Regions from separate parts of the Homo sapiens genome. Here region 1 is linked to region 2. The links come from fine-mapping of genetic effects on gene expression. A gene starts in region 2. The other region holds a variant in brackets. All regions are shown on one strand. Distances are from middle to middle.

Region 1 (4,373 bases), 22 kb after region 2:
GGCTTGTGCTTTGCCTTCACTTGGAAGCCACCAGGAACAGAAGGTCTGGCCACCCTGGAAGGAGGGCAGGACATCAAAGGAAACCGACAAGATTAAAAATAACTTGGCAGCCTGAGGCTCTGGAGTGCCCACAGGCTGGTGTAAGGAGCGGGGCTTGGGATCGGTGAGACTGATACAGACTTGACCTTTCAGGGCCACAGAGACCAGCCTCCGGGAAGGGGTCTGCCCGCCTTCTTCAGAATGTTCTGCGGGACCCCCTGGCCCACCCTGGGGTCTGAGCCTGCTGGGCCCACCACATGGAATCACTAGCTTGGGTTGTAAATGTTTTCTTTTGTTTTTTGCTTTTTCTTCCTTTGGGATGTGGAAGCTACAGAAATATTTATAAAACATAGCTTTTTCTTTGGGGTGGCACTTCTCAATTCCTCTTTATATATTTTATATATATAAATATATATGTATATATATAATGATCTCTATTTTAAAACTAGCTTTTTAAGCAGCTGTATGAAATAAATGCTGAGTGAGCCCCAGCCCGCCCCTGCAGTTCCCGGCCTCGTCAAGTGAACTCGGCAGACCCTGGGGCTGGCAGAGGGAGCTCTCCAGTTTCCAGGCAAGGCGGCTTCCGATTGATGTCCCTTCTCCCCCCGCGCTCCCCCCACACCAGGCCCTGGCCCTGATCTCCCTGTAAGAGCTCTTGGTCAAGGGCGAGGACAGACGTCTTGAAACATAAACCCAGCTGGCAGCATCTTTTTTCCTCAGGGACACACACGCAGGCGCAGCTCAAAGCCTGGCCGTGTTGTCAGGCCTGCCTGCTAAGCTGGCTTCAAGGGAAAACACTCCCTGGGCAGCTGGGATGCAGACTTCGGGGAGGTGGTGCAGATCCAGGCTCTAGCTAGCCCTGGTGGGTTTTCTGCGTGACCCTGGGGAGGGCTCTCTGCCAGCTGCAGTTTCCCCATTTGTAAAATGGGAGTGGTGGGGAGGAAGGCTGAAGGTTGGGAAAGGCCTCGTGCCTGGAGGCTGGCAGCATTGGACGTGTTGAGAAGTGGTTGGATTCTGGTTCTGTTTTGAAGGGGGAGCCAACAGGATTTGTTCTCTTTTTGCATGTGGGGTGTAAGGGGAAGGAGGCCCAAGAATGACTGCCGGGGTTTTGGCTGGAGCACTGGGAAGGCTGAAGGGGCCGAATGCCGACATGGGGGTGGGGAGAGGCCTGGGGTTCAGATTTGGGCCCGTGGGGATTGTGATACAGTTTACGCTCCTAGTGGAAATACTGAGTGGCCGGGCAGATATCCGGGTCTGGAGTGCTGGGGAGCGGCCAGGGCTGGAGATCCACATTTGGGTGTCATCGCTAAGGGAGTGTGTGGGATAGAAGAGTAAAGAGGACCAAGGCCTGGGGCACTCCTGCCTTGGAGGCTGGGGAGATGAAGCTCAGAGAAGACACAGGAGACAGAAGGAACAGCCAGGGAGGCAGGAGGGAGGTCGGCGGTCCTGGCTGTTGCCAAGTGAAGACAGGGTGCCAAGGGGAACAGGATCACCGCAGGCACATCACTGTCCCTCTGAGCTTCCGTGTCACCTCCCTCATGGAGGCAGCACCAGTAACCAAGAGATGAGTAAGTGGGGTATCCCCAGTGCCTGGCCAGGGCAGGTGGCCCCGAAACAGAAGCAGTGGTTCATCACCTGGATCTTGCTGTGGCTGGGGTGTAAGAGGATGTTATAATCCAAATCTCTGCATGCACCAGAGAGACTCGGACTTAGTACCAGTGCTCTTCCCTCCCCGAGCCGGCTGAGGACTGAGACACCACCTGGAGGGGCTGGGGCAGAGCGGGGCCTTGCACAGGATTTGGAGAAGTGAAGCCACATCCTTGGGGGTGGGATGGCATGGATGACCCCTCAGGGGCTGGACCCATCCTGAGTGGGAAGAAGGGGGCCTTCTGTGGCCATCCTCGAGGCCCTGCCTGAAAGCTTGCAGTG[C/G]GGACAGCCAGAGCCACAGCGTCACCAGCTGCAAGGAACCTCAAGATAAGTCTTCTGGTGTGTTTTGCAGATGAGGAAATTCAGAGATGGGAAGGGCCTTCCTGTGGTCACAGAGCTGATAAGGGGCTGGGAACGGGGGGAGGTGGAGCCTTCCCGGGTGGGGCCCCTGCCAGCCCCTCTGTTGAAAACCCCCAGCCTCCCTGGAAGGAGCCCCTGGAATGTGCGCTCTCCAGGCCCAGGGCTTCCCTGCTTCATAGCTCTCAGCAACCTCCTAGCCCACAAAACCAATCCCCAGTCCCTAGCCTGGAACACAAGGCCTGTCCCCCAGGCGATTCTTCCAACAGCATTTCCTGCAACTCCCAGCTGCTCAGCCTGCCTGCCCTCTGGGCATCTGCTGTTCTCCCTCGCCAAGAGTGCTGTTTTCCCTGCTGGAATCCCACACAACCCTCACAGCCCTCTCCACAAAACCTTCCCCAGTGCCCTAGGTGGAAGGGATCTCCCCCTCTTCAGGCACCCCACAACCCTCTGAACATTTAAAGCAGCCATCACCCTCCTTCTCAAGCTGCCAGCCAATGCCCTCTTCTGCAAAAGCCAGGTAAATGGCTCCCTCCTCCAGGAAGCCCTCCCCAACTACCCTCAGCCTGGGTCAGGGGCCTCCTCTGGGTTTCCACAGCCTCTGTGCTCCCTGCAATGTTTCATGGAACCAAGGTGTTGTGGAGGCCTATGTTGTGTCATATCATCTGTCTTCCCCACCTGTCTGGGGCCTTTTCATGGGCTGGGACCAGCCATATGCACCAATGGGCCCTGGGATCTGGGGGGCAGCACAACAGGGCTGGGTATAAAACATACCTCCAAAATGTTGGATTTGGGAGTGTCCTTTGGACCTCTGTCAGGACAAGTAAATGGGGAAACCAGACCAAGGACCCAGAATGGCTCTCAGAAAGGGTGGCCACATGATATAACTGCTACCATTTATTGTGCACCTGCTGTGTGACCTTCTAAACACAGTGGCCCAAGTCATCACAGCAGCCCTCCGAAGTGAGTATTGTTACCATTGACAGAGGAGGAAACTGAGGCTCTGCAAGAAAAGGCGGCTCGCTCCAGACCTCAGGAAAACTCCCAGCACAGCAGGGCTCTGAGCGCAGGTGCGTTCCTGCTCACATGTCCGCACTCCCAGCAGGCTCGGGGGAGCTGCATGGAGAGCTGAAGACCGTTTCCTGGGCTGAGCTGGAGGGCTGGGAGGGGAGTCCTCAAGCTCAGGACAGGAGACCCTGGGGGGGGGTCCCTGACTCAGCGGGCTACTGGCCCGTCCCCACATCTGTGACAAAGCACTTAACCTTTCTGGCTGGCCAGGAGCTGGACAACCGAAGGGCAGTGGGAGCTGGTCCCGGTGCTTCCCCTCACCCCCAGGTCAAGGCTCTAAGAATGCAACCAGGCTGAGCCCCACTCCGGGGAGGTGGATGCTGGGGCCTCTGCCAGGTGCATCACAGGGGTGTGGAGGCTCCCAGGACCTCGGAGCTCTGGTAGCTCAGGATCTCATTGTGTTCAGAGATTTGGAAACGTGAGATCTTGGTACTCAGGAATTGTGGAGTAGAAACCCCAAACCACTGCCTTGCCAGCCCTGTAGAGGCCCCCAGGCCAATGGCCAACCCAAAGGATTTTGAAGGCTGCATACTGATCTGAGGGTGTCAGAATTCTTGTCCCCAGCAGATTTCCCTTCCCAGGACTTGCTCCATCTCCCTCCTGTGTAAGGGGCAGCAGTCACAGACAGGGCTGTGTGAGGCTTGGAGAGCCCCCGAAAGATGGAGACTCCCCAGTGATGACAGCACCAGCCGCTCTGAGGCGGCTCTGAACCAAGTGTGGGAGGCTGGCTGGAGACCTGGGAGAGACAGGGTCTGAGGAGGGAGACAAGAAGGCGGCAGAGAGGAAACAGGAACTCCTGAAAAGAGGGAGAGATTAGTTTGGTGGGAAAGGGGAGAGTGGACAGATAAGACCCCGTGAGGAGGCCAGGCCAGGCCAGAGGAACAACCAAGGGGCCCAAGCCCAGCCCTGAGCAAGCCACTGGTCTGTGGTTCCTGAGGCTGTGGAGACCAGCCACTGGGTTACACAAACCAGGCCCCAGCATGATGCAGTCTCCAGTCCGGAACCCCAGACCCAGAGAGGCTGGACGGGGTAAGGGGAGTTTAGGGCTAGGAGGTAGGAATCCTGCATCTTTTCTAGCTTCTTGCTGTGTGACTCTAGGCAACCACTGGCCCTCTCTGGGCCTCTTCGGCAGTTGTTTTGTCCAATTCTTACACCCAATCTAAGGGATATGACCCAGTATCTCTGTTTTATTGATGAGGAAACTAAGGCTCAGAGAGGGAAGTGACTGGCCCAATGTTAGAGAATAATTAGTGGAGGAGCTG
Region 2 (4,369 bases):
TCGAGGAGGTGACCGCTCGCTCTCCAAAGGTGCTACGCCTGGCGCGGCCCACTACGCGCCCGGCCCCAAGCAAGGGGCCGGGCAGGTCAGGGCGGCCCACGGCAAGTGTCCTATAGAACGACCAGGACACAGGGGGCACTCCCTCGACACGTCGTCCCATCCCCAGACGGAGAAGCGGGGGCCCAGGAAGAGGACTTGACCCCAGCCCGCGACGCAGGAGGCAGCCGCGATTCCCCCCTCCTCGAGCCCCGGCTTAGCGCCCCCTGGCGGGCTGGGGGCTTCAGGAGGCGCGTGCACCCTGACCCGCGAGCTCAGGCGGAAGGTGACCCCGTGGCCTGCGCGGCTGTCCCGGGCGCTCGTACAAGGGACAGGAACAGTCCGTCAGGACCCAGAGGCTCGGGCCAGGCGCTGCCTCCCCGCGCGACGAGCTTGGGCGGCGGAGGGAGAGCCTTGGGACAGCCGGGGCTGCACCGAAAGAGCTGGGCGGGGCTGGAGGCCTGGGTCCCCGTCCGCTGTGCGACCTAGGGGGCTCCTCCTCTCCCTGGGAGACCAGGCTGGACACAGATCCCCCGCTGTGAGTCCGCGCGCCTCCGTCCTCTTGCAGCCCCCGCCCCCTCCCCACCCAGGAATGCCGGGTGCCTTCGGGGGGCGGCGCACTTTGGGAGAGGGGAAGACGGTGACTGGAGTTTTGATTCCCCCCTCCATATCCAGCGGATATTTTTCTCGTTCTGAGAAGTGCAAGAAACTTGCAGGACCAGGAAGACAAAGGATTTGGATACAGGCTGGGTGGGAGGACGGGACTGGGTTACACCGAGAACCCCTCTGAGACCCCCAGCCTTGACGGCATGTTTGTCGCAGGCGCCCCTGTGCTGGGCGCTAGCTGCGGGGCTCTGCGGAGGAAAAAAACTGTACGATCCAGGCTTCTCCTCGCCTTCCTGTGGGTTTTGCCGACAGGCTCCAGAAAACAGTGGGGCTTCCCATCTCTGCGTGCTGACTACCCACGCGCAGGAACGCGCCACGCAGGTGGCGTCGCGGTGCAAATAGCAGAGGGGCGCTGAGCCCCGCAGGCTGCAGGGAGACGGGGTCCTCGGGGGACGCACGGCGAAGCCCCATTCCTCGTTCTTATGGAAGGGGACACCGAGGCTGGGGTGGCTGAGGGCTTGCCCAAGCTCACAGAGCCAGATAAGAACGTCCCTTTTCTGCTCCAGCGCCCCCACTACCGTGGGCGCCTCCTTTTCCAACTCCCCAAACCCTTAGAAAGGAATCCCTTTGTCTCTGCTCCTCCCGAGGGGAGAGGGGCTGGGGCTGTGTCTGACTCCGGGCGAACGCCAGGTGTTGGTAAATTTGGGAGAAGCTGGGAAGGGAGTTAATGAGGTGAGAATGAAGTGAAGGAGAAAAAAAGCGGAGATAGCTGCTCCGCGGGCTGCGGGCGGGCGGGGCAGCCTCTCCTCCGCGGCCCGAGGGCGCCGCCTGGAGGCCAGAGGCAACACCGCGCCAGCCCCGCGAGCTTCCCCGCTTCGCTAAGGCGGGGCTGCCCAGTCCCAGCCCGCATGCTTCCACTCCCACCCTCCAAAGTGGAGCGGCTAAAGACGGACTTGGAGACTCGGAATCCTCACTGTACAAAGAGCCCTACCATCCCGTTTCCCATCCTCCCCTTCCCACACCGAGAAAGCAGGGCCCCGAGCAAGCCCCATTTCCTGATTTCGCCGGACACCCGGCTTGCCGCTCCCTAGCTGAACCCCACCTCTGTGCCTCAGTTTCCTCATCTGTGAGATGAGGCAGCGATAGTGCCTATCTCACGGGGTGCTGGGAGGAGCAGATGCGATCGTGTTAGGGAACTTTTTTTGTTTGTCTGTTTGTTTGAGACGGAGTTTCGCTCTTGTCGCCCAGGCTAGAGTGCAGTGGCGCAATCTCCGCTCGCTGCAACCTCCGCCTCCCGGGTTCAAGCGGTTCTCCTGCCTCAGCCTCCCGAGTAGCTGGGATTACAGGCGCCCGCCACCACGCCCGGCTAATTTTTTGTATTCGTAGTAGAGACGGGGTTTTGCCATGTTGGGCAGGCTGGTCTCGAGCTCCTGACCTCAGGTGACCCGCCCGCCTCGACCTCCCAAAGTGCTGGGATTACAGGCGTGAGCCACCCTGCCCGGCCAGGGAACGTTCTTTATAAAAGCGGAATTGTGCCCGAATTGCCCCAGCTTACTGAGGAGGTAAACTGAAACACGTTTGGGAAGGAGAATTGCCGAGGCCCTATTAACTAATGCTCAATATTGCAGGGATAAGCCCCAGCTCCGGGTCCTCGACTCTGCTGCCTCGCCTGGACTCCTGATTCCTCATTCCTCTCCTTTCCGTCCCAGGTTGCGTCTGTCCGGGTTTCCCCCTCTGTCTCCGTGGCTCTCAGCCTTGTCCTCTGAGCGTCCTTCTCCCTCTCGCTGTGTCTGCCCGGTCTCTCCTGGGTCTCCGGTTCTGCCGCCTCCTGTCCCTCCTTCCGGCTGCCCCGGCCAGAGGGGCTCGAAGGCGCGTTGGGGCCCGGGGCCACGCTGGGAGACACGCCTTCGGCCGCGCCTAATTCGAGCCAGGCGCGGGACGCGTCCCCCGGCCGGGCGGAGCGGGAGGGGACGCCCGCCGCGCTCGGCCTCCCCGGGCCCCGACCCCTCCTTTGTAATTTGAATAAAACGCCTCCCCCGCCCGCGCGCCGCCTTAACCCGCCGCCTCCGCTCTCCCCGGCTGCAGGCGGCGTGCAGGACCAGCGGCGGCCGTGCAGGCGGAGGACTTCGGCGCGGCTCCTCCTGGGTGTGACCCCGGGCGCGCCCGCCGCGCGACGATGAGGGCGCGGCCGCAGGTCTGCGAGGCGCTGCTCTTCGCCCTGGCGCTCCAGACCGGCGTGTGCTATGGCATCAAGTGGCTGTGAGTAGGGACCCCGCGTCCACGCGCACAGGCCAGGGACTGGGGCGGCGGAGGGCGTTTTGGGGTCCCCTGGATGGGGCGAGCGCACCAAGACCCGGGAGCCTAAGCTGGCTTGGCGGTCGTGGGCAAGTCATCCCTCAGCCTCTGTTTCCTCCTCTGTAAAATGTCCCTGCCTCCCGCAGGCTTGCGAAAAGGGAGTGAGACGGGCGTGGACCACAATGGAAGCGCCTGGTCCTGTGCAGCTGACGGTGGCGCAAGGGCCACGGAGTTTCTGGCCACCTCCGCAGGGGCAGATGGAAAAAGACATTCTGTTCAGGGGGCGCAATCCAGAGCGGCCAGCCCAGGAGCGGTCCTTGTCCGTCAGTCTCCTTGACCCTAGCGGGAGTTCCGCTGAGACACTCCTGACCCCTCCACCTGGGCGACCTTGGGAAAGTGTCACTCTACTTCTTGGGGCCTCCTTGTCCTCCTCTGTCACGGGAGGGTGAGACTCCCCACCTCCCTCAAATCAGATGAGAAGAGGCTCCTGAAAGGACCTCAGAAGCTGTCAGATGCCACTGTGCACATGTGCAGGGCATTCCTTTAGATAGAAATTATTCACGCAGGGGTAGGAGGGAGAGAGAGGCTTGGTGCCGAGCTGAAGGGAGTGCCTGCTCAGGGGGCTGGGGGTGGTGAAGAGAGGAGTAAACACCAGCCCCTTCCCGGAGGAGCTGCGCTCTAAGTTGAGAGAGATAAGCCCAGGCTGTAAATAACTCCACAAGTGTCCAAGTGCCCGAGGAGAAACCAGAGCGGGAATCTGGAGGCCTAGAGGAAGGAAGCCCACCTGGTGGGGACACAGATGTGAGACACCGGGAAGCTTTTCCGAGGCTGTGCCTCTGGTGACTGAAGCGCTGCTGGGAGTTGGCTGGTTCGGGCAATGGAGAGGACGCTGTGGGCAGAGGGGCTCCCTGAGAGGGAAAGTCCAGGACAGGACAAGGGTCTGGAATCTGGGGCCAGGGCAGGGAGCCTGCAGATAAGACAGCAGGGGGCAGGTTGTGGGGGCTGGGGAGGGCGCTGCAAAGGGTTTGTGAATTAGTTGGAAGACAGGGTGATAGTGGCTGCGCCGCCAGCAAACAGTCTGGAGGTCACTGGCCCTGCCCCTTCTCAGGCCAAGTTATTGATTAATTGACGATTCGAGGAGGGAACCCCGTCTTCCTGCCTTTCTTGTTTACAAGAAGCCTGGTCTCAGCAATCTCCCAGCCCTGGGCACTAGCTTTTCCCAGCTGTCCCTGAGGAGTTCTGTGAGAAACCAGCCACCTTCCTTTTGCAATGGGGTACCCAGCACTGTTCCAGCTGGCAGGGACCTCCGATCAGCGAGTCCAAGCTCTCTCATCCACCGCCACCATTTTACAGATAAGGATACTAAGGTCCAGGGAAGGAGAGGATTGGCTGAAGGAGCGTCAGAGGCCTTGCAGTGGGCTTGGGTGTCATT

The links. PIP is the estimated chance that this variant, and not a neighbour inherited with it, causes the effect.
Region 1: its variant is the best candidate, but not a certain one, in a credible set for the expression of WNT11 in whole blood (INTERVAL, PIP 0.80).

Annotation. Positions count from the first base shown.
Region 1 is chr11:76,182,566-76,186,938 of GRCh38, reverse strand. It overlaps WNT11 (Wnt family member 11), which reads left to right. Exons shown (of 5, transcript NM_004626.3): 5 at 1-614. Among named protein-coding and RNA genes, the nearest start is that of WNT11, 22 kb to the left of the region's middle. RefSeq lists enhancers at 1-257, 1,039-1,819, 1,820-2,601 and a silencer at 1,973-2,162. The variant C/G (reference allele first, on the strand shown) is at 1,969.
Region 2 is chr11:76,204,857-76,209,225 of GRCh38, reverse strand. It overlaps WNT11 (Wnt family member 11), which reads left to right and starts at 2,724. Exons shown (of 5, transcript NM_004626.3): 1 at 2,724-2,901. The coding sequence starts at 2,819. RefSeq lists enhancers at 1-265, 1,600-2,267 and silencers at 1,372-1,591, 2,572-2,811.